Homo sapiens: one gene and its partners. The protein of the gene in region 1 interacts with the protein of each later gene in a biochemical or structural test. Each region holds a gene or a part of one and is shown in the gene's direction. Other genes may lie near its edges.

The links.
Region 2: the proteins of LDB3 (region 1) and SLC22A12 interact in a test that uses a peptide from one of them, tested with the Homo sapiens proteins (one large-scale study listed by IntAct).
Region 3: the proteins of LDB3 (region 1) and TRMT13 interact in a test that uses a peptide from one of them, tested with the Homo sapiens proteins (one large-scale study listed by IntAct).
Region 4: the proteins of LDB3 (region 1) and KCNB1 interact in a test that uses a peptide from one of them, tested with the Homo sapiens proteins (one large-scale study listed by IntAct).
Region 5: the proteins of LDB3 (region 1) and MYPN interact in a test that uses a peptide from one of them, tested with the Homo sapiens proteins (one large-scale study listed by IntAct).
Region 6: the proteins of LDB3 (region 1) and CNTNAP2 interact in a test that uses a peptide from one of them, tested with the Homo sapiens proteins (one large-scale study listed by IntAct).
Region 7: the proteins of LDB3 (region 1) and SHROOM4 interact in a test that uses a peptide from one of them, tested with the Homo sapiens proteins (one large-scale study listed by IntAct).

The regions. Positions count from the first base shown.
Region 1 is NC_000010.11:86,713,511-86,717,010, forward strand, and holds part of LDB3 (LIM domain-binding protein 3), read left to right. Parts: intron 1-2,816; coding exon 2,817-3,261; intron 3,262-3,500. UniProt on the Homo sapiens protein: May function as an adapter in striated muscle to couple protein kinase C-mediated signaling via its LIM domains to the cytoskeleton.
Region 2 is NC_000011.10:64,594,220-64,597,719, forward strand, and holds part of SLC22A12 (solute carrier family 22 member 12), read left to right. Parts: intron 1-3,500. UniProt on the Homo sapiens protein: Electroneutral antiporter that translocates urate across the apical membrane of proximal tubular cells in exchange for monovalent organic or inorganic anions. Involved in renal reabsorption of urate and helps maintaining blood levels of uric acid.
Region 3 is NC_000001.11:100,146,663-100,150,162, forward strand, and holds part of TRMT13 (tRNA:m(4)X modification enzyme TRM13 homolog), read left to right. Parts: coding exon of another isoform or gene 1-10; exon of another isoform or gene 11-1,231; coding exon 1,232-1,664; exon of another isoform or gene 1,665-1,962; coding exon 1,963-2,158; 3' UTR 2,159-2,379; coding exon of another isoform or gene 2,380-2,435; 3' UTR 2,436-2,705; coding exon of another isoform or gene 2,706-2,773; 3' UTR 2,774-3,500. Other genes in the region: LRRC39 (leucine-rich repeat-containing protein 39), read right to left, coding at 2,706-2,773. UniProt on the Homo sapiens protein: tRNA methylase which 2'-O-methylates cytidine(4) in tRNA(Pro) and tRNA(Gly)(GCC), and adenosine(4) in tRNA(His).
Region 4 is NC_000020.11:49,374,669-49,378,168, reverse strand, and holds part of KCNB1 (potassium voltage-gated channel subfamily B member 1), read left to right. Parts: intron 1-3,176; coding exon 3,177-3,500. UniProt on the Homo sapiens protein: Voltage-gated potassium channel that mediates transmembrane potassium transport in excitable membranes, primarily in the brain, but also in the pancreas and cardiovascular system.
Region 5 is NC_000010.11:68,171,988-68,175,487, forward strand, and holds part of MYPN (myopalladin), read left to right. Parts: intron 1-2,078; coding exon 2,079-2,669; intron 2,670-3,335; coding exon 3,336-3,474; intron 3,475-3,500. UniProt on the Homo sapiens protein: Component of the sarcomere that tethers together nebulin (skeletal muscle) and nebulette (cardiac muscle) to alpha-actinin, at the Z lines.
Region 6 is NC_000007.14:148,415,801-148,418,649, forward strand, and holds part of CNTNAP2 (contactin-associated protein-like 2 precursor), read left to right. Parts: 3' UTR 1-2,849. UniProt on the Homo sapiens protein: Required for gap junction formation. Required, with CNTNAP1, for radial and longitudinal organization of myelinated axons.
Region 7 is NC_000023.11:50,629,195-50,632,694, reverse strand, and holds part of SHROOM4 (protein Shroom4), read left to right. Parts: intron 1-3,500. UniProt on the Homo sapiens protein: Probable regulator of cytoskeletal architecture that plays an important role in development. May regulate cellular and cytoskeletal architecture by modulating the spatial distribution of myosin II.

The DNA.
Region 1 (3,500 bases):
CTGGGATTACAGGCGTGAGCCACCGCGCCCAGCCAATCTTAATCTTTTTTAGCAGAGAATTGCACTTCACAAAGAAAGGAAAGAAAATGTTGCACAGAACCCCCTTATATATAACAGAGGGATGAAGCTGCTCTGAAGTTGTGCTAGATCACCTCTCCCTGCTCTCTGTCCCTGGTGGTGTTCCTGGAATCACTTCTTCCCCCAGCATTTTGATATTCTCTGCAAAGTTGTTAGGGAGGGTGACAATACCTCAAATTTGGGCTGTACACATTTACAAAATCCATTCACTATGTCACCCCAGCAGGTCCCCAGCATGCCCTGTGGGGCAGGCAGGGTGTCAGGCATTCCACCACCACTGAATAGACCTCAGTCTCAGGTTATCTGACTTCAGGATGTTCCATTTCCCTTCCCTCCTCTCCCCCAACCCTAGGCGCTACCAGTCTAACTGGGCTGGGCTTCCCTAGGTGAGCAGCAGGCCATGAGACAGGCTGACAGTACATCTGACCCTGACACCCAGGTTGCCCCCATCCTTGCCATCCTCACTCACATTTAGTGACACACTATGCCAGGTACTAGGCTACGCTCTTTATATTTCTTACCTTCCCTTAATCCTCATAATAACCTTGTGAGATACTAAGAATCAGTATTGCCAGTTTTAGATGAAGAAATTGAGGCCCAGAGAGGTTAAGGAACTTGCCCAAGGACACAAAACCAGGAGGTAGTAGAGCTGGATCCTGCAGCCAGGGCTCTTGGCTATGCTATCAAGACTCCACAGCAGGGGGTCTCCTTCATGTTGAAAATGACTCCTCCCTGACATGTTGCACTGAGATTTTCTAGAAATTGGACTCATATTCTTTACAGAGGCAGCTTGGGATGATAGAATGAATGGATTTGGAGATGTATTCCCACTTACTAGCTCTGTCTGAGCCTCAGTGACCTCAAGTGTAAAGAGGGAATAATGTGAAGACCGATTCAGATGACAGATGCTATGTGCCTCGTTACCCCTAAAGGGGAGGAAGATTCCTTATGGAGAAGGTATTATCTTTTTTTTTTTTTTTTTTTTGAGATGGAGTCTTGCTCTGTTGCCCAGGCTGGAGTGCAGTGGTACGATCTCGGGTCACTGCAAGCTCCGCCTCCTGGGTTCACGCCATTCTCCTGCCTCAGCCTCCTGAGTAGCTGGGACTACAGGCACCCGCCACCACACCCAGCTAATTTTTTGTATTTTTTTAGTAGAGATGGGGTTTCACCACATTAGCCAGGATGGTCTCGATCTCCTGACCTCATGATCTGCCCACCTCAGCCTCCCAAAGTGCTGGGATTACAGGCGTGAGCCACCATGCCCAACCGGTATTATCTTTTGAAGGCCTCACTGGCAGGATGGCTCCAGGGCAGGGCTGTGGAGGGTTTTATCTCTTCTTCCTTCAACAACATGGATGGATCCTATCTACCTGGTCCCTACTCACCCCCAGCACAGGGATTTCCAGCTCACCCAGCTCTGAAGGGTGGGTCACCTGGGAGTGGAAGGTGCAGAGTGGGAGCCACAGGCTGCCCCAGGCGGTCCAGGGGAACCAGGTGGGAAAGAGAGACTGGAGATGGGGCCAGGGTCTTAGGCCCTAAGGAAAACCTTCCTCTCCAGGTTGAGGCTGGAGTATGGGGTGGGGGGCAGAGGCGGGGTGTGGGTGCAGGGACTGCCTCAATGCAGTCCATCCTGCCCATACTGAGCTCAGGAATGGGGAGGGAGGCTGTGCTGACATGCTTCCTAGGGTTGGGGGAATGAGGCCTCTTTGCTGAGGAGCAGACTGAAATGTGGTGAGGCTTCTGGAACCTCACTCACTGGAAGAGGAAGCCAGCTGGACCTTGCCTGCAGGGTGCAGCTGGGTCTGCCCTGGCTAGGTGTTGAGGGCCCAGGCGGGAGAGGGCTGTGGGTAAGCAGTGGCAATGCTTTTTCTGTGCTGTGAGCCCAAAACGTTTTTCTGCTCTCAGGGAGCTGGAGGAGGGGGTGATAGAAGTGAGGTGGTGCATTCTCTTCCCTGTGCTCTGACTGCCTGGGCAATCTTTAGACAGTCACTCAGACACACTCTCAGCTTCCACCAAAGCGATGTGGGAGTACAGGGGTCCCCCAAGGCAGCCACGGGCCAAGTGAGCAGCTACTTCTAGGCTGTGTCACCCTAGAGTCTCTGCCCAGCACCCTCTGAATGACTCCTTCAAGATCCCCCACCCTAATCAAACCAAGACGGAATTGCCCCCCAATACAAATCAAGCCAAGCTGTTTTTCAAGAAAGTAATTGTAGCTAAACCTGAAACCTGAACCTGAAAACCCAGCTACCAGGTCACCTGTTTTGTCCTGAGGGCTGACCTAGGTCCAGGTTCAGCAAACTTATGCCAAGGGAGGTATTTCAGATGTCAAATCACTGGTCAGAGTGCAACTGAAAGCATCTTGCAGTCAAAGGCGAGGTGACCCACTCCCACCTCTCCCCGCCCAGGTACCCCCACCCCCACTCTGCGTCTTATGCAGGCCTTGGGCAGTCAAGGCCTGGCGGAGCCCCACCCTGCACAGCTGCAAATATTTATAGCCATGTCCCTTTTCCAGCCCTGTCGAGGGTTCTGCTGTGCTTGCTCCCTAGCTCTGTGAACACCCTGCTGAGAATTCAAATCTGGGCCATCAAGAAGTTCAGGAACAAGTCTCCCAAAAAAACTGAAATTGTACTGCTCTAATGTTAAAGTCACCTTTTGCATTTCTCTGGCTAGGAGTGAGGGGAACTGGGAAGAATGAATTCCTGACACACCTTTCTTTGGGTTTTTTTTGGCTTTTGCAGTGCCTGCATCTACCTACAGCCCGTCCCCAGGGGCCAATTACAGTCCCACTCCCTACACCCCCTCCCCTGCCCCTGCCTACACCCCCTCCCCTGCCCCTGCCTACACCCCCTCACCTGTCCCCACCTACACTCCATCCCCAGCACCAGCCTATACCCCCTCACCTGCCCCCAACTATAACCCTGCACCCTCGGTGGCCTACAGCGGGGGCCCTGCGGAGCCTGCCAGCCGTCCACCCTGGGTGACAGATGATAGCTTCTCCCAGAAGTTTGCCCCGGGCAAGAGCACCACCTCCATCAGCAAGCAGACCCTGCCCCGGGGAGGCCCAGCCTACACCCCAGCGGGTCCTCAGGTGCCACCACTTGCCAGGGGGACCGTCCAGAGGGCTGAGCGATTCCCAGCCAGCAGCCGGACTCCACTCTGCGGTCACTGCAACAATGTCATCCGGTATGGTCCAGCTGTGCCCCTGCACTGGGGCACTGGAAGGGCGTGTGTGTGGGGTGCTTGCCCACAGTCTGAGCCCTGGTTGGGAGAGATGGGGGTAGGAGGCAGGTGTAGGGAGAAAGCCTCGGGTCCTTCTGGCTTGCCATCTGGTCTTACCTCTCTGAGCCTTAGCTGCCATACCTGTGTGACACCCACTCTCCCAGGGAGCTGGGAGGAATGGCATGAGGTATGTGGGTGAAGCT
Region 2 (3,500 bases), on another chromosome or scaffold:
GCACACACAGCGCACAGCCGCAGTCTGCTTCATGGGCTGACAGAATCAATGCTTGTGTCTGTCTGCTGGAAGACAGGGACCAGGATCCACTCATCAGAGGGGAGTCCACAGTCCCCACAGAGGGCCGGCATGTGTGGGAGGTTAGGAAATGTCAGCACTGCCCTGAAACAAATCAGGCGTGGCCCTTGCCGAGCACCTGGCACATAGTAGGTGCTAAATAAATATTTGTTGAATGGATGAATTGTTAGGTAAGTAGAAATAGATAGATAGGTAGGTAGGTAGGTAGGTAGGTAGGTAGGTAGGTAGATAGATAGAGACAGATAAATAAATGGGTTGACAGATGTGTGGATTGGATGAGTGGATGGGTGAGTTGGTGGATAGATGGATTGGATTGTATAGATGAATTGAATGGATGGTTGAATGGATGGATAGATGGATGGATGGTTGGAATAGATGGATGGACGGATGGATGGATGGATGGATGGATGGATGGATGGATGGATGGACGGACAGACGGACGGACGGTTGGATGGATGGATGGATGGATGGATGAATGGATAGTTGGAATAAATGGATGGATGGATGAATGGATGGATGGATGGGTGGATGGACGGACGGATGGATGGACAGATGGAATGGATGGATGGATGGTTGGAATGGATGGATGGATGGAATGGATGGATGGATGGAATGGATGGATGGATTGTTGAATGGATGGTTGGATGGATGGATGGATGGATGGTTGGAATAGATGGATGGATGGATGGGTGGATGGATGGATGGATGGATGGATGGATGGATGGTTGGAATAGATGGATGGATGGATGGGTGGATGGATGGATGGATGGATGGATGGATAGATGGATAGATGGAAAGGATGGATGGATGGATGGATGGATGGATGGATGGATGGATGGTTGAATGGATGGTTGAATGGATGGTTGGATGGATGGATGGATGGATGGATGGACGGATGGATGGATGTTTGGAATAGATGGATGGATGGATGGATGGATGGATGGATGGATGGATGGAATGGATGGATGGATGGATGGATGGTTGAATGGATGGTTGGATGGATGGATGGATGGATGGATGGATGGATGGATGGATGGTTGAATGGATGGTTGAATGGATGGATGGATGGATGGATGGATGGATGGATGGATGGATGGACGGACGGATGGATGGATGGATGTTTGGAATAGATGGATGGATGGATGATGGATGGATGGAATGGATGGATGTTTGGAATAGATGGATGGATGGATGGAATGGATGGATGGATGGTTGGAATGAATGGATGGATGGATGGTTGGAATGGATGGATGGATGGATGGTTGGAATGGATGGATGGATGGAATGGAAGGAGGGATGGATGGATGGATGGTTGAATGGATGGATAGATGGATGGATGGTTGAATGGGTGGAATGAAAGGATGGATGGTTGTAATAGATGGATGGATGGATGGTTGGAATAGATGGATGGATGGATGGATGGTTGGAATAGACGGATGGATGGATGGTTGGAATAGATGGATGGATGGATGGTTGGAATGGATGAATGGATGGATGGATAGATGATTGGAATAGATGGATGGATGGACGGTTGAATGGATGGATGGATGGATGGATGGATAGTTGAATGGATGGAATGGATGGATGGATGGTTGGAATAGATGAATGGATAGATGGTTGGAAAAGATGGATGGATGGATGGATGGATGGATGGATGGATGGATGGATGGAATGGATGGATGGTTGGAATAGATGGAATGGATGGATGGATGGATGGATGGATGGAATGGATGGATGGTTGGAATAGATGGAATGGATAGATGGATGGATGGATGGATGGTTTGATGGTTGAATGGATGGATGGATGGAATGGATGGATGAATGGAATTGATGGATGGATGGGATGGATGGATGGATTGATGGATAGTTGGAATAGATGGAATGGATGGATGGATGGATGGTCGAATGGATAGTTGAATGGATGGATGCATGGATGGATGGATGGATGGAATGGATGGATGGATGGATGGATGGATGGATGGATGGATGGATGGCTGAATGGATGGTTGAATGGATGGTTGAATGGATGGATGGATGGATGGGTGGATGGATGGATGAATGGATGGATGGATGGATGGAATGGATGGATGGATGGTTGGATGGATGGTTGAATGGATGGATAGGTGGATTAATTGGATGAACTGGATGGATGAATGGATAGATGGATGGACGGAGGCCATTTGAGGGCAGGGCTGAGCCTGGATCATTCATACACAGGCCCTGCACTTAGTAGTTGTTTGGTCATTGGGACCACTGTAGAAAGGAGCACAGCAGAGGCCCAGTGGTGAGCAGGTGCCCGCACCCACACTAAGAAGAAGGCTGAGTCCACAAATCTCTCCCACCCAACAGCTTGGAGTGGAGTAACAATTTGCAGCCACTCCTCAGAGCAGGAGAAAATTACATCTCATACAGTGGCTCCACAAGGAGGCAATCGTGTCCGACAAGAGCCTTCTGGGATGGCAGCTTGACTCCCAACACCAAGAGGGTAGAGAGTGGAAGGTAAAGGTCAGTGATAAAAATTCCAAGGCACCCCTCCTGGTTCTCATGCTGATGCAGGGCCACAGAGCTGCACCCCCCTTTCCTTGGTAGACGTGCTCCCACAGGGCTGAAGAAGTGCCCATTCATTCATTCATTACTTCATTCATTCAACAAATAACTACTGAGCACCTACCATGTGCCAGGCGCTGGCTGACACCAGCTATGAGCAGATATGTGGTCTCTGCCCACGTGGAGCTCATAGGGAATCCCACACATCGTGGCCTCACAAACTGTGCTTAGGGCTTGACGAACAACCTGGGGTATTGACATCTGAGAATGGGACCCCGCTTTCTCCCTCCCAGTCACTTACAACACATTCCAGTCAGCTTTCTCCCTCTTCTCCGCCCAAACTGCCCTTCCCAGGGTCACCCACAATGATCTGGCCACCATCACTTGTGGTACCTGCTATGTGGCGGGCACAGTCCACACTCTCTCCCTCAGGCAGCCTCACCCCTGCCTGCAGCCCCAGCTCCCTCCAAATACTGCAGACCCCAAATCTCCACTTGGTCCTGCCTCCCCCACTGACCTCCAGCCTTACACCTCCAACTGCCCACGTGACGGTTCCATTATAGGTGTCTCATCCCCACACACATCTCCTTAGACCTCTCCTCCCCAAGTCTTCCCCAGCGTGGGGAGCAGCCCCTGAACTCACCAGAGTCACAGTGGCCATGACGCCTCTCTCTCCCTCACCATCCCCCCACCAAGTCCACTGGGTCACCAGGCTTCATCAGCTCTATCTCTAATATGCACCTGGAATCTCCACTTCTCCCCTCTGTTCTGCAAATCCCTAAGGAGCTCAGGGCCCCGGTGGGTGTAGGGCAGGTGGCCCCACCCTGGCTGCTCATAGGGGACAACACGTCTGGCTGAAGGACCTGCAGGAGCCA
Region 3 (3,500 bases), on another chromosome or scaffold:
GCCCGGCTAATTTTTGTATTTTTAGTAGAGACGGGATTTCACCGTGTTAGCCAGGAAGGTCTCCATCTCCTGACCTCGTGATCTGCCCACCTCAGCCGGCGTGAGCTACTGCGCCTGGCCTGAAATAACTTAATTCTTTTAATAATTTATCTGGTTATTCACATTTCTGAAAATCACTTACTTAAGTCAAATATGAATAAAACAATGACTAAATGTATTTTGTCAGAAAATAATAGTTTATGAAATAATAGATTAGCTATCACTTTCTGCAAATAATGGGTTTCTAATGTTTGTTGACTTAAATTCATATATTGAATTAAATTTACTAGTGAAATATCAGATCATTTAATAGTCATTTGTGATATCTTAGGGTAATAAAATTTTAAAATATGTATATGTTTTTGATTGAACAGACACAACATGACAATCTAATGATTAAGAAGATATGGGTCCTACATTTTGGGTCTTTCCAGTATTGTCAACAGTGTAGGAGTTTTCGATGGGAAATAGCCATAGTCATCAAAAATCCATTTATTTAGTTTTAAAATATACTAAAATATTTTCATTGTAATGTGGAGTACATCTGCCTCTTAAGTTTGTGTATATTAATAATTGTATCCTCAGTGCTTTGCACATGAAAGGCATTCAGTAAATGTTTGTTAAATAAATGAATAAATACAGTAAGGCTACTCAGTGAGGCCTGCTTTCCAGATTCTGTTCTGACGCCCTCTTTTCAACTCTTCAGTTCATCACTATTTGCTATGAGCCTCTTCAAGACAAGCATCTTGACCTAGCATCAACCTAAACAGATTTGTCTGCCCTTCCTCCCTCCCTTCCTTCCTTCCTTCATTTTTCCTTTCTTAAACTAGAATGTAAGTGTAGGTGAATAAAGTTTTCCCATACAAGTCATTTCCTCAGCTAAGGTAGGAAAAGTGAGAGACAATTCAGGTAGTTGGGTAAAAGTTCTTCAAATTGTAGATCTTAAGCTTCAGATAGCTTTATTGGGAAGTAGGCTTTATGCAGAATAAATCATTAAAGAAATTGAGAAGATAGAAGAGCAAATTTGAATGAAGTTGATAATTCATGATAGTATTATTACAAATATAAAGCTGAGTAGGTTTTTGCTGTTTTTATTGTTGAGTTTTTAAAAACAGTACTGCTTAATAAATGTAAAAAGTATTTATTTTTAAAGATGATGTGGTTTGGGGGGGCCACATAATTGTGTTTGCAGATCTTGCATTACGATGTTTGGTTGAAACCTATGCTGCCAGTTTTGAGGAAAGGAATGAAGAACCTTTAGCCAAACGCATAAAGAATGATAAAACAGAAAAAGAAATTTACACTTTGGCCAAGGAAGGAAATGAAAAAAATGTCCCAGAGAAGTGGAACCCTGTGGCTGGCATTGTTATTGCACTCTGTTGTCACCACAGGTGTGATTGGAGACATTATGTGGGCAAAGAATATTTCAGGGCTCTAGGCCTTGGAGCAGTGGAATTCCATTATTTCCAGCGAATGAGTAGTTGGGCAACTTGTGGGATGCGGAAAACATCTTTGGAAACCTCAAATAGTACCACAAAGAGGCAAGATAATCAGAATGATGATAGTGAAGAGCATGATGATGGAGGATACAGAATCACAGATGATGGCGCTGATTGTTTGCCTGGGTAAGAGACTACTTTTGTAATGCATGATACTAAAGGAGAAATATTATATTGTACTGTACTTTAGATGACTATTATCAACAATTCATGAAAATGTATTTTATAATCTAATTTTAGAATAAGCTAAAATATACACATCTTTTATTGTGGTCATAAATATAATGTGTCTTGGAAGCATGGGACAAAGTACTTAGTACATTATGGGTTAGTTAACAGTCTCTCAATAAATAGTGACAAAAATAATTTTTTATAAACTTTTGCAAAATTTTAACAATGTTTTGTGTGTGTTTATTCAATTTAGGCTTCTTAGTGTTGAAGAAAAGAAGAAAATAGGGCATCTTTGTAAATTGCTGATTGACCAAGGTCGAATCCAGTATTTGCAGCAGAAGGGATTCAGTCCTGCTTTGCAGTACTATACAGACCCTCTGGTGTCTTTGGAAAATGTTTTGTTAACTGCTTTACCAAATCATTCTTCATCACCAGAAACAACTGCTTAATGGAAAAGAAATTTGAGCATCATCTGTCTTCCACCAAAAAAAATTTTTTAATTATATTTTTATATCAAAAAAATATATACTTTAAATAGCAAATAATATGAACTTTAAAAAATGCTGTGGCCTCATTAAACTTTGGTAATAGCTTTTCTTTTTACTTCAGAAATCCAAACATTAGAGAATTCACCAAAGTAATCCTCTTTAGAAGGGCATCTTGAATTATATTATCCATCCGTATTTATGGAGATTGGTAAAGTAGTTGAACCGTTGACTTGGTGATCTGAAACATACATAACATGTCAACACATAATTAGCGTATTTCTGTTTGTATTAATTTTGGAAATTTATCTTCCTTTGATTTTATTTAATATTTTTTATTTCTTAAGTTCAAGAGGTAGTGATTGATTGTAACAAGGGCCAATCTGAGAATTTGACTTATATGTGGACATTTTTCCCTACAGATCTGGAAAGCACAATTGTGATTTTCTCAAATGCAGACAATTCAGAGATATTCACAATTAATAAACACAATTAATTAATGAAGTCACCTTCAAATTTCCAGAGCCATACATGTATATATTGTCAGAATCTGTCCATGACAAACACAAAACTGAAGAGCTGTTTTCAAAGAAAAAAGATTATTTCACTTAATTATTTTGTTGGATAATTGTCTAGTTAGAACTTCCAAAAAGATACTTACAAACATAATTCACAAATTTGAAATAATTTCTGAAGTTGATTAGCTATCTCATATCTTTTATCAGGTCATTTTTTATATATGTAGGCACAAACAATAAGTATGTTCTCTTCTGTTTGGGAAAATAATTTGGAATAAAATAGAAATTAGATAATGAAACCAAAAACCTTCTCAAATTTAGGCCTTATTTAACTCATGACTGGTTTCTATGCACAAGAAAATACTAAACCAAATATATGGTAGGACTGTTATTCTCTTCTGCATCTTATCCCTATTTTGTTTCTGCCTTTATTTGTAAAAATTGTCTTAATTGATGGTACATTTGCCAAGACAAAGGTTCAGAATTACTAATTTTAGATATTATGATATTCTGAAATAACTATTTTTATCCTGTAGTTCTATGATTATATGATTTGTAAATAAGAAGCCTAACCAATTTAAAATTCCTGACTTTAGTCTCATATATCTTGTCAGACTGTCTCGGTTCAAATTCCAAACCTACCATCTTCAGTTGTGCGACCTTGGGCATGCTACCTAATCTCTTTGTGCCTCAATTTCCTCCTTTTAAAATGGGGATGATGATGATAACAATAATACCTACCTCACAAGGTTGTTGTGAGCATCAAATGAGATAACACAAGTAAAATG
Region 4 (3,500 bases), on another chromosome or scaffold:
ATGAACTTGAGCAACGGCCAACAAATACTTGGTGAGCACCTGTCAGGTGTCCCACCCTGGGTTAGGTGCTGGGGGCACATAGATAAACCTCAGAACCCATCCCCATCCTCCCAGTACTCACCAATTCTGGGCAGCAATAAGCACACTCACTCACGTGCACACACACACACGCATGCACACACACACACGCACGCACCTGTGATGGGATATGAGTGGTAAGTATCCCCAAGGTATGGTAAAATGGTGAGGAAACCCAAGGATGGAGCAGTCAACCCTGCCTGGGGAAAGCAGGGAGAACTCCAAAGGGAAGGGGTCACATGGGCTGGATTTGAAAAGATGGATTGGAGTTCACCAGACAGCAAGCAAGAAGCTCGGACATGCAGAATTGACCAATGATAGTGTGCGGCTAGAGGAGTGTGAATTTTGAGAACCGATGGCAGGAGTGGCCAGAGAGAGAGGTCAGAGTCAAAATGAGAAGGACTTGACAACCAAGTGTCCTTACTGGGGATTCATTGCAGGGCCAGAAACCTCCCACACTCACCCATGTAGCAATTGGGTTGACTTACAGGATACAGCAGACAGTCTCAGAACAAGGACAGGAGGCAAAGACCGAGACCGGGCCACCCCGAGGCTGGTGATCTGAGTGGGTGGGGTGATGTGGGCTGAGATTTCCCCTGTGATGACAGCTGGCATCTATTAGACACTCACCGTGTGCTGCTGGAAGCTGTCCTAGCACTTTGCCTGTGCTAACACATTTCATCTTCACAGCAGTTCTCTGAGGTAGATACTGTTATTATCAGCCCATTTGCTAGATGAGGAAACTGGGGCTTAGAGAGGTTAAATAACATGCTCAATGTAAGGAAATGGCAGAGCTGAGGCTTGAACCTCAAACAGGCTGACACCAGAGCCTCAGCTCTTAACTGCTGCCCTCGGCACCCTGCTATGACCCTCCTGCGGTCCCCACTCCTCCTTCATCTGCACCTTCCCTTCATTCTCTGGCTTCTCTTGAAGGTTCAGCTTTCTTTGTCTTTTTCTTTCGTTTGTTTGTTTGTTTGTTTGTTTGTTTTTTGAGATGGAATCTCACTCTGTCGCCCAGGCTGGAGCGCAGTCGTGCAATCTCGGCTCACTGCAACCTCTGCCTGCCGGGTTCAAGCCATTCTCCTGCCTCACCTGCCAAGTAGCTGGGAATACAGGTGCCGCCACTATGCCCGGCTAATTTCGTTTCTTTTTTTTTTTTCCTTTTTCTTTTCTTTTGTTTTCTTTCAAGACAGGGTTTCTCTCTCTGTCACCCAGGCTGGAGTGCAGTGGTGTGGTCATGGCTCACCACAGCCTCAACCTCCTTGGGCTCAAGAGATTCTCCCGCCTCAGCCTTCCAAGTAGCTGGGACTATAGACATGTGCCAATACACCCAGCAGATTTTTTTATTTTTTGTAGAGACGGGGTCTCACTGTGTTGCCCAGGCTGGTCTCGAACTCCTGGGCTCAAGCAATCCCCCCACCTTAGCCTCCCAAAGTGTTGGGATTACAAATGTAAGCCACCATGTCTAGGCTAAGGCTCAGCTTTCTCTGATGTTTTTATGGCATCTCTGTCCCCTACATTTGGGAGACAGTTGCTTGAGGGTTGGGCTTATCATGAAGCTGATTCAAGCCTAGATTCTACTTAACATTTAATTCAGGGACTTACCCTCCCGTAACCCACTCACCGCCTGGGTTCCTGAACTCAAATTTCTCAAAGGTAGGCTGGCTAAGCCCCAGTGTACGGATTGGCTTAACTTGGATTTTTTTATCCAAACTTCATGCTCTGATCATTGGCAGGCAGGATCAAATGATACAACCATGGTGACCAGGCCCCCCCCTTCCCACTTAGCAGGGGCAGAGGAAGAGAAAGGGAAAATCTACAAAAGCAAGACAGGTATAGGGGACCCAATAGACAGGTTTAGGGGTTTGGATTTTTTCATGAGGAGCCCTGGAGATTTATTAAACAAAGGAGTAATGTGATTGGATTTGTATTTTTGAAAAAAAAAAAAAAGACCCTCAGAGCAATTGATTACATCTGTTTGCTTTTCTGCATAGTCTGTAGACTGGCCTACTGGCCTAGATTCCATTAATTTCAACATATATCCATTGAGCCCTTTCTCTGGGCCAAGCTCTCTTCTTGATCCAGGGGACTCAAAGGTAGTTAAGCCAAGGTCTTTAGCCCCCAAAAGCACATAGTTCCAATCAGGAGTTAACATGGGCCCAGAATGTCTGTGCCTCCCTAGGAATTACCTGCAAAATCTTGAGTGTCTAGGCATTTTTCTAGCAAAAGGTTAGCTTTCATCTGATTTTTTTCCCCTTTGTTCTTCTATAGAGACAGAGTCTCACTATGTTGCCCAGGCTAGACTCGAACTCCTGGCCTCAAACGATCCTCCTGCCTAGGTCTCCCAAAGTGCTGGGATTACAGACATGAGGCACCATACCCAGCCAAATCTGATTTTTAACACAGCCTTAAGAGCTCATGTTCTTGGGTCACACAGACCTGGGTTAAAATGCTGGCTCTTCCACTTACTAGCTGTGGAAACCCAAGTGTCCGCATCTGTTCAATGGAGCTAATAGCACTGAACGGGGTTATTATAAGAATGAAATGAGCTATTTCATGGAAAGTGCCTAGCACACAATGAACACTCAATCAAGGATAGTTATTATCATTAGTATCATCTCTGTGAAGGTAGTTCCCCATCCAGTGTGAGCCACTGGTCTAGATCAGAAGTCAGCAAATCATGGTTCACAGGCCAAATTCAGTCCACTGCCTATTTTTGTAAATAAAGTTTTATTGAAACACAGCTATGCCCATTCATGTATGTATTATCCAAGGTTGGTTTTATGCTACAGCTGCAGAGTCGAGTCGTTGTGACAGACAATGCAGGGTTTCAGGGCCTATAAAATGGTTACTATCTGAAAAAGTATGCTTGAACCCTGGGCTTGCTGATAGCTTTAAAACATTTCATTTCTCTGGGCCTTGGTTTCCACATCTAGACAATAAATGGATTACAACAAATTCTCTTTTTGGCTCATTAAATGACTAGTGAAATGTGAAAATGCTCTTGAACATTGAGGAGTGCCCTGTAGATCCAGGATATTATGATGATCATCCTGTGGGGTGGTTGATAACTAAATCCCACTCTCTTCTCCTCACAGATCCTTGCCATAATTTCCATCATGTTCATCGTCCTCTCCACCATTGCCCTGTCCCTCAACACGCTGCCTGAGCTACAGAGCCTCGATGAGTTCGGCCAGTCCACAGACAACCCCCAGCTGGCCCACGTGGAGGCCGTGTGCATCGCATGGTTCACCATGGAGTACCTGCTGAGGTTCCTCTCCTCGCCCAAGAAGTGGAAGTTCTTCAAGGGCCCACTCAATGCCATTGACTTGTTGGCCATTCTGCCATACTATGTCACCATTTTCCTCACCGAATCCAACAAGAGCGTGCTGCAATTCCAGAATGTCCGCCGCGTGGTCCAG
Region 5 (3,500 bases), about 19 Mb from region 1:
ATTCAAAATCCTTAATAATTTCTTTTATATTCCTTATAATGCAGAGTCTTTGTGTCCCAAAAGCAACACATATTTCCAAAGAACATAAAACCAGCAAGGCGCTTGCCTGTAATTCTAGCACTTTTGGAGGCCAAGGCGGGCAAATTGCTTGAGCTCAGGAGTTTGAGACCAGCCTGGGCAACATGACGAGACCCCCAACTCTACAAAAAATATAAAAAATTGCTGGGTGTGGAGGCACGCACCTGTGGTCCCAGCTACTTGGGAGGCTAAGGCAGGAGGATCACTTGAACTCAGGAGGTTGGGGCTACAGTGAGCCGTGATTGTGCCACTGTACTCCAGCCTAGGTGACAGAGTAAGACTCTGCCTAAAATAATTAAATAAATAAAAATAGAATAAAGAACATATAATTAGTGGTCCTGAAGCACTGTGATCTCACTTATGGGTCTTCCCGTGGTTACTCATTCAACAGTAGATTCTCCTAAACATCAAAGTTTGACAGCCTTAATGACTTTATGCATATATGATTTTAAGACATTTTTGTTGCACTTTCTTTGTTAAAAAATAACTCTTTTGTGAAGAGAAATTCAATAGACCATTGAATTCAATGGACCATTAAGGCAAATCACGTGATGCCTCTGTGACTCAGGTTCTATAAATGGAGAAACTGCTTCCAGTTTGATCTTTCTCCTTTTAGGAACAATAAAAGTCTAAGGCAAGGTTTATAATCAGGGTGAGCATATAATCATCATTCAAATTAGGACATTTCTGAGAGTGAAAGTGAGTTCTATTAATAATGATGTCAGGGCCGGGCACGGTGGCTCGCGCCTGTAATCCCACCAGTTTGGGAGGCCAAGACGGGCAGATCATTTGAGGTCAGGAGTTCAAGACCAGCCTGGCCAAAATGGTGAAACCCTGTCTCTACTAAAAATACAAAAATTAGCCGGGCATGGTGGCAGACACCTGTGGTCCCAGCTACTTGGGAGGCTGAAGCACAAGAATCACTTGAACCCAGGAGGCAGAGGTTGCAGTGAGCCAAGATCGCACTACTGCACTCCAGCCTGGGCAACAGAGTGAGACTCTGTCTCAAAAAAAAGAAAAACAAAAACAAAAATAATGATGCCAGGAAAAGATGTTAAACCAGGACCTTCCTGAATGTATGGGGACATATGGTCACCTTATCTATAAAGGTTTGTTATCGCGAGAGAATGAGAAACCTCTCTGAGACACATCCGGCTTCTTTGTTAAGGTCGGCTCTAAAACAAGGCAGAGTGGAGAATACAGCATGTTCTCATGGAGAATTCAGCCCTTTTCAGTAACTCACACTGGCATGTAGCTCAGTGCCTTCTGTTCTGAAGCTGGGATACTTTCCTCTGGTCATCAGAACTTTGAGCACTGCCTACAAGAGAAACATTGTCTCTATTTCTCTTTTCCAATTTATAAACTCTTTGTTGCACAACTCCAAGGTCGCAATACAAAGAATACAGTGTGAAGGACGCCCTTGGAAAGAAGGAAAGACAAACTCACCAATTATTGATCAGCTGATTTCTTGCCACTCTGGTTGTGTGTTCTTTATCAACATCAAGTTATTTTATTTATTTATTTATTTATTTATTTATTTATTTATTTATTTATTGAGATGAGTCTCACTCTGTCACTGAAGCTGGAGTGAGGTGGCAAGATCAGGACTCACTGCAATCTCCGCCTCCAGGCTCAAGCCTGGGATCTCAAGTGATCTTCCTGGGATCCTCCTGGGATCACTAAAGCAATCCTCCCACCACAGCCTCCTGAGTAGCTGGGGCTACAGGCGTGCACCACCATGTCTGGCTAATATATATGTATATATAATTTTTTTTTTTTTTGTTAGAGACGGGGTTTCACCATGTTGCCCAGGCTGGTCTCAAACTCCTGGACTCAAGTGATCCACCTGTCTCCGCCTCCCAAAGTGCTGGGATTACAGGCATGAGCCACCATGCCCCGCCTATCATCAAGTTATAAACAGTCTGTCTGAACATTGTTTGAAAGGTGAGGCCAATAATAACACATTTCCTTCTCTCTCTCCACCCTTGTTTTGTGTACAGTGATTCCACTCAGTTACAACAGCTTCATAACCAAGTCTTACTGGAACAACACCAATTGCAAAACCCACCTCCTTCATCTCCTAAGGAGTTTCCTTTCAGCATGACTGTTTTGAACTCCAATGCTCCCCCAGCGGTGACAACATCCAGTAAGCAGGTGAAGGCTCCTTCATCACAGACGTTCAGCTTGGCCCGGCCGAAGTATTTCTTCCCCTCCACGAACACCACCGCAGCAACTGTGGCCCCTTCCAGCTCTCCGGTGTTCACTTTGAGCAGCACTCCTCAAACTATTCAGAGGACAGTGAGCAAAGAAAGCCTCTTAGTGTCTCACCCCTCTGTGCAAACCAAATCTCCAGGAGGGCTTTCCATCCAAAATGAGCCACTCCCACCAGGCCCAACAGAACCAACACCACCACCATTCACATTTTCCATCCCCAGCGGAAACCAGTTTCAGCCCCGCTGTGTGTCCCCAATTCCTGTCTCTCCTACCAGCCGGATTCAGAACCCAGTGGCTTTCCTCAGCTCTGTTCTGCCTTCTCTCCCTGCCATCCCACCCACAAATGCCATGGGGCTGCCTAGAAGTGCACCATCCATGTAAGTGTCATTGAGGTTTCTTGATGTAAGATGCTAGTTAAGAGTCGATGTGCACATTGAATAGCTTGATCTGAAACAGGGCTCTCATTTTGTGGATTCCTAGATAATCTTATTCTCTTAGGCACAGAATGGATGTGGAACACTTCAGGACAAAGGGGATGATTACTTTGAATGATTATTAATAATTAAAATATCAGGCTAGGTGTGGTAACTCATGCCTGTAATCCCAGCACTTTGGGAGGCCGAGGAAGGCAGATCACTTGAGTTCTGGTGTTTGACAGCAGCCTGGGCAACATGGTGAAACCCCCGTCTCTAGGAGAAGCACAAAAAATTAGCTGGGCGTGTTGGTGCATGCCTGTAATCCCAGCTACTCAGGAGGCTGAGGCAGGAGAATCATTGAACCCAAGAGGCGGAGGTTGCAGTGAGCCGAGATCACACCACTGCACTCCAGCCTGGATGACAGAGACTCTGTCTCAAAAAAAAAATTTTTTAAATTAAAGTATCAAAAAGACCTTTACAAATACCGATTCTCTGCACAGGGCTTAATTCCCTAAGTGCCTAATGACCGCTGGTTTCTGGTTGTCATTTCAACCACTCTGATTTCTAGGCCTTTTTACCCTGGCCAGTGCTTTTCATGGGTGTGTCAGGTGTGGATTTATCTTACAGGCCATCCCAGGGATTAGCGAAGAAAAATACAAAGTCTCCTCAACCAGTGAATGATGATAACATTCGTGAAACTAAGAACGCAGTGATTCGAGACTTGGGGAAAAAAATAACTTTCAGTGATGTCAGACCAAACCAGCAGGTAAGATTGTTGGATTTAGAAGGTTT
Region 6 (2,849 bases), on another chromosome or scaffold:
TATTTCTTTATAGCTGAGTTTTCCCTTCTGTATCAAAACAAAATAATACAAAAAATGCTTTTAGAGTTTAAGCAATGGTTGAAATTTGTAGGTACTATCTGTCTTATTTTGTGTGTGTTTAGAGGTGTTCTAAAGACCCGTGGTAACAGGGCAAGTTTTCTACGTTTTTAAGAGCCCTTAGAACGTGGGTATTTTTTTTCTTGAGAAAAGCTAATGCACCTACAGATGGCCCCCAACATTCTCTTCCTTTTGCTTCTAGTCAACCTTAATGGGCTGTTACAGAAACTAGTTCGTGTTTATATACTATTTCCTTTGATGTCCTATAAGTCGGAAAAGAAAGGGGCAAAGAGAACCTATTATTTGCCAGTTTTTAAGCAGAGCTCAATCTATGCCAGCTCTCTGGCATCTGGGGTTCCTGACTGATACCAGCAGTTGAAGGAAGAGAGTGCATGGCACCTGGTGTGTAACGACACAATCAGCACAACTGGAGAGAGGCATTAAAGAACCAGGGAAGGTAGTTTGATTTTTCATTGAATTCTACAAGCTAATATTGTTCCACGTATGTAGTCTTAGACCAATAGCTGTAACTATCAGCTGCAATACCATGGTGACCAGCTGTTACAAAAGATTTTTTCCTGTTTTATCTGAAACATACTGGATTTATATATGTATAAGCGCCTCAATGGGGAATTAGAGCCAGATGTTATGATTTGTTTGCTCTTTTTCTTTTATAGTTTAGTTATAGCAAAAATATGGATAATTTCTAGTGAATGCATAAATTAGGTTGCGTTTCTTATTTTGCTTTAAATCTCTGGTAGTTTTTCCACCCCTGTGACACAATCCTAATAGACAGTGTCCTGTAAATGGACACAACACAATAAAGTCAAGTTATTATTGCTGTTACTCTGGATGATATGGAAAACACTGCCATATTTTAAATCAACTACTCCACGTGTTTTTCCATCCAATCACACTGCTGTGATTCAGGGATCTTTCTTCTAAGACGGACACATTTGAACCTCAGGTTCATCACAAACCTGGTACCTGTTGCTTCCCAGAGGATGGAGAAGTGTAGTTAATCACACCTCTTAGTTTAATCTGAAATCTTGACCCAGTTATTTAACAAATAAATACCTCATTGATTATATTTAAAAGTAATACACTTCCTGTAAACAAATGGGGACAATGCATCCAAAAAATCTTTTTAAACAGATTACACAAAAATTATTTCCAGAAAGGCTACCATTTATCATCATTATATTTCAAGCCTCTTATACTTAATAAGCACTTTCTAAAAAGTCTTGAGATCCCACCATTCTGAGGAATTCAATATGATCACTTTTTCCTTCTTTGCCTGGGAGAGGTTAAGAGGAGGTTTCGAAGGTATAGATGCTATTGTTCTGATGGCCCGGCTGAATAAAATGGAAATTCTAGTTTGTTAGAATTATGCATTCTTTTTCAAGATTCTCAGTGTGCCTAACTTATTGGAGCACATCAGTTTCTTGGGTAATGGAAAACATTACCTAGAGTTGCCAGTGGCACATTACACCAGTACAGAGCACATTCCAAAGGAGACATTGGACCAGTTAATTCCCATACAAGTCAAGGTAACAGAACAAAAGGGAATCCTGATGCCCTTTTACCATTGCTGGTTGAGCTCAGGCACTGTCATGGACACCCTTAATTTTAAAAGGTTTTAATCATTCTTCTATAAAATACATTTAAAATGGAAAAATACTTAATATCACTAAATATCAGAACAATGTAACATTTACAAATGACATATTGAAAGCAAAGGCTGTTTTATTTAGCCAAGATGATTACCATTAGGAGTTACTTTATGTATTGTTGAAAGCAAATTTTAAACATGATGTTTTAGAAGTGTTTCTGATTTTTAAACCTGGTTTACAGGTATTACTTCTGCACTTACCAAATAATGCCAGATGGAAATTTATTATTTCTTGCAATTCCCATGATAGCTCTGTTCTTTATGCATTGTCTCAACACTTTCCCTTTTTTCCCAAAATGAGTAGAGAATTAAAGCCACCCAAAACAGCTTCTGCTACTAAAATGTTCTCATCCTTTCTCCTCCCTCTCCTTTTCCTGCCACAAAAGGTGAAAAATGAGATCCAATCCTCTCACCAAAATTTCAAACCTAGGACACTGGAATGACTGCAGGGATCAGTGGTTCTCCCATATCACCATCAATTAAGACATATAGGACACTGTCTTCCTTCAAGAGGGTTACAATGTGGCCATCAGACAGGAAACCAAACGGTGGATAAAGTATTAAGTAACTAAGTGCCAAATAAATGCTGGAAATCTTGACCTCTCCTTGGGATTATGGGTGTAACAAAAATCCCTACATCTGTTTATGAAGGCCATATTCAGTACATTTTAAATGGTAAATAATCTGTTTATGTGAAGAAAAAGAATTAAGTCTTTCTTCCAACTCTCTCCTTGGATAGCCTAGCACAGTGCAGCCTCCATAACCATGACATTCCCGCCCAAGCTCTCAGTGCCTAATCCTGCTTTGTCATTCACATCTCACAAAATCTTGACATCTTACATTCCAATACATTATCAAGCAAGCACAAGTATGCTGGTAGTAGCCTCTTTAAATAATATGTATAGACAACAACAACGACAAAAAATAGACTGTTTTAAAGTTTCAGGGAAAGTTGGTGGCTGATTTAAAGTTGTGCAGGAAACATCTTCTGTGTATGAAGCAAATGTCGATGTTTTGAAAAAAGCTAGGAGATGACTTTGAATGAATGCAAGGTTAGTGAGATCCTAAGCTCTCAAAATAGCATATTCCCTAGAGCTCAAGAAAGCTGGTCCAGGAGGTT
Region 7 (3,500 bases), on another chromosome or scaffold:
CTTATTGCCTCCCATTTTCTACTTCAGAAGTATTTAGAGATGCAAAACTTGCAAATATCCCCAGGCTTTGCTTTCAGAGATCTGACTTGTTGGGTTTTTAAAAAGACAAATCCTTTCCCCTTTCTCCATCCTGTCTCTGTTGGAGACCCAGGTCTAAACTGGCTGCTCTTATATCCCGGTTATGACCTATTACCATAACACAAGCTACCACCATCCCCCAGGCTACTTCTGGGAGGACTCCCTAGGTCCTTGCCTACTCACTGCCAGATTACTTCCCCATGGCATCCCTGATGCCATCTTTTGGCCGGTGCATTCAAACCAGAAGTTAATTCCTGTGTTCAGCTGTTGCATACACAGACACTTTTGAAATGACTTAGTATCTGAATTTGCTCAATATATATCCTTGGTAAAAAGGAACTTCAAGGGTGATAGAAGCCTTACACAAAAGACTATGAACTCTACAATTCCTTTTATATGAAATTCTAAAACAGCTATTCTATGGGGGAACAAATTCAGAACACTGCTCGCCAATGGGAGGTGGCACAGAGATTGACTGGAAAAGGGCAGAGGGAACTTGTGGGGTGGTGACAATGTTCTATATCTTGGTAAGAGTTTGAGTTAAACATATGTACCTGTCAGAACTCAACAAATGTATAGCAAGGCTCCTAGACAGCCAATGCACTTAGTATTTGTGCATTTCACTGGAAGTAAATTTTGCCTAAAAATGTTGTAAACAAATATTAAACTTTATTTAATATGTATGCTGAAGTGTGTTTGAAGTATACTGCTGTATTCAACTTATGTTTTCAGCATACAAATCTTGTACATATTTTGTTATATTTGTCCCTGAGATTTTATGAAAGCGCCGAATCCTAGCCACCCAACCACCAGGGATATTTGTCCCTAAGATTTTATGTTTTTAGATGCTATTATAAAGAGTATTATTTTCTTAATGTCAAGTTGAAATTCTTGATTACTAGTCTATAGAAATATAATTGAATTTTGTGTATTGACATTGTATCCTGCAACCTTGCCAAACTCACTTATTAGTTCTAATAGCTTTTTGGTGGATTATAAAACATTTTCTACATACACAATCATGCCATCTCCAAATAGAATTTAGTGTCTTCCTTTCTCCTGTACATGCCCTTTTCTGGGAGAGAGAAGAGCCTTATTGCACTCTCACCTTCAATACAATGTTTGGAGGAAATGGTAAGAGTGGACATTGTAGCTTTTTTCTTAATCTTTGACTATAAAGTTTGATGTTAGCTGTAGGATTTTTTTGTAGGTGCCCTTTAATTGAGGAAAATCTCTTTTATTCTTAGTTTACTGAGAGTTTTCATCAGAAGTGGATGTTGTATTTTTTTTCAAATGCTTTTTCTGTATCTGTTGAGATGATCATATAGTTTTTCTCTTTTAGTCTACTGATGTGGTGAATGACATTGATTGATTTTTAAAATAAATAGAAGCCTAGCATTGCCAGGATAAATCCCACTTGGTCATGATGTATTATCCTTTTATATGTTACTAGATTTGCTAATATTTTGTTAAGGATTTTGCCCTTATGTTTATCAGGGATTTTAGTCTATAGTTTTATTATAACATCTTTTTCTGTTTTTTGTTTTTTTTGTTTGTTTGTATCAAGGTAATGCTAGCCTTAAAAAATGAGTTGGGATGTATTCCCTTCTCTTTTATTTTCAGGAAGAGTTTGTATAAAATGTCTTCCTTAAATGTTTGCTTGAATTCATCACTGAAGCCATCTGGGCCTGGAGGTTTTTTGGTAGAAAGCTTTTTAACTACAAATTCAATTTCTTTAATAGATTTGGGGACATTTAGGTCATCTATTTCTCCTTGAGTAAGCTTTAGTAGTTTGTGTCTTTCAAGAAATTTGTCCATTTCATTTACATTTTAAAATTTATGGGGATATAGTTGTTTTCAACTTACTTTAAAATGCACCAGGATTTTAAGATGGATTGGTAGATGGATAGAGGAGTAAATGGATATATGATAAGGCAAATATATCAAAATGTTAATTGTAGAATCTAGGTGCTGGGTATATGGGTGATCACTGTGAACTTCTTTCAACATTTTTGTATGTTTGAATATATTCATAATGTTGAAAAAAAGAGGAGAGGAAATATAAAATAATGGTTTTAAGGGCACCGAAGCTGGAACCAGACTGCCTGGTTTTGAATTTCTTCCCCCGAACTTACAATGCCTAAGCTTTCCCATCTAAAAGCATGGGGGTAGTAACAACACCTACTTCATAAGTTGGTTGTGGGGATTAAGTGATGTAACACATTTAAGACTCAGAGCAGTGACTGCCAGATTGTAATCATCTTATAAGTGAGTTATCATCTCTTAAAGGGACATTTTGGCTTAGCTTGAGAGACTTTTGCTGGAAGAAGGACTCACAGATAGACAGTAGACAAAGGGGGCTGAGATTGGGGGTGAGTGGGGCGGGGGAAGTGAGGAGATGACGGCTGCAGCGGTGTCAGCCCAGGACCAGCAGCTCTATAAGAGATGGAGGTACGATTTGCAGGTTGCAGCAATTGGCAGCAGTAATGCATGCGGGTGAGGCTGTGCCTACACCATGCCTCTATTTTTTGTACTCTGAGGGAGGGATACCTTGGGTTCCTAATGCTTGTTAGACCAGCTAAGCAGGTCTGCTTAGATACTAGGCATTCCGACACGTGGATGGCTGCCTAGGAGACACCACATGCCCATTTCTGCCCATCATCTGAACCTTCCACTCCTACTCCACCCCCCTCAAGAAATGGGAAAAACTTGCAGCATGGGTTAAGATGCCATCGCTCTGATGACTCAGGTACTTGTGGTGGTAGCTATCTGAAGTAGGGCTGAGATCCTGCTCCTAATGCCCCTGGACGAGGTTGGTGAACTAATTGTCTCCTGTTCAGTGCTGTGAAGACTGAAATCAGCATGCACTCACGTCCTTCATACCAGCTTGTTTTTCATTCATTGTCAAATTATTTCACTTACCAATTGTATGGGATAAGTTATAATAGGATCTCCCATTTTACAGCTGAGGAAGCTGAGAAAGCCAAGGCTCAGAGAGGTCACACATCTAGCAAGTGGCAGAGCCAGAATTTGAATAACATGACAGTAACTAGCATCTCAGTGTCTACTGGGCACCAGGTACTATTCTAGATGCTTTACATGTATCAAGTCATTGAGTTCTCAAGCAATATTATTATCGTGATTATACTATTATATAGTTGGGGAAACTGAGATAAAGAGAAGTTGAATGGCTTGCCTGAGGCCGCAAGTGAAAGGCAGGTGTGCGATTTGAATCCATGCTATCAAGCTCCAGAGGCCAAGCTCCTGACTGTGCTACACTGCCTCTCCATAAGCTGATTGCAAAGCCCAGGCCCTCTCTAGTGTGGCCGGATGCCCTCTAGCAGTATCACTTCCACTGGGACAGCAAGTTCCCATCACAATCTCCATTTGCAGCAAGCGGTGGGGATAACTGCCTCTTTGAT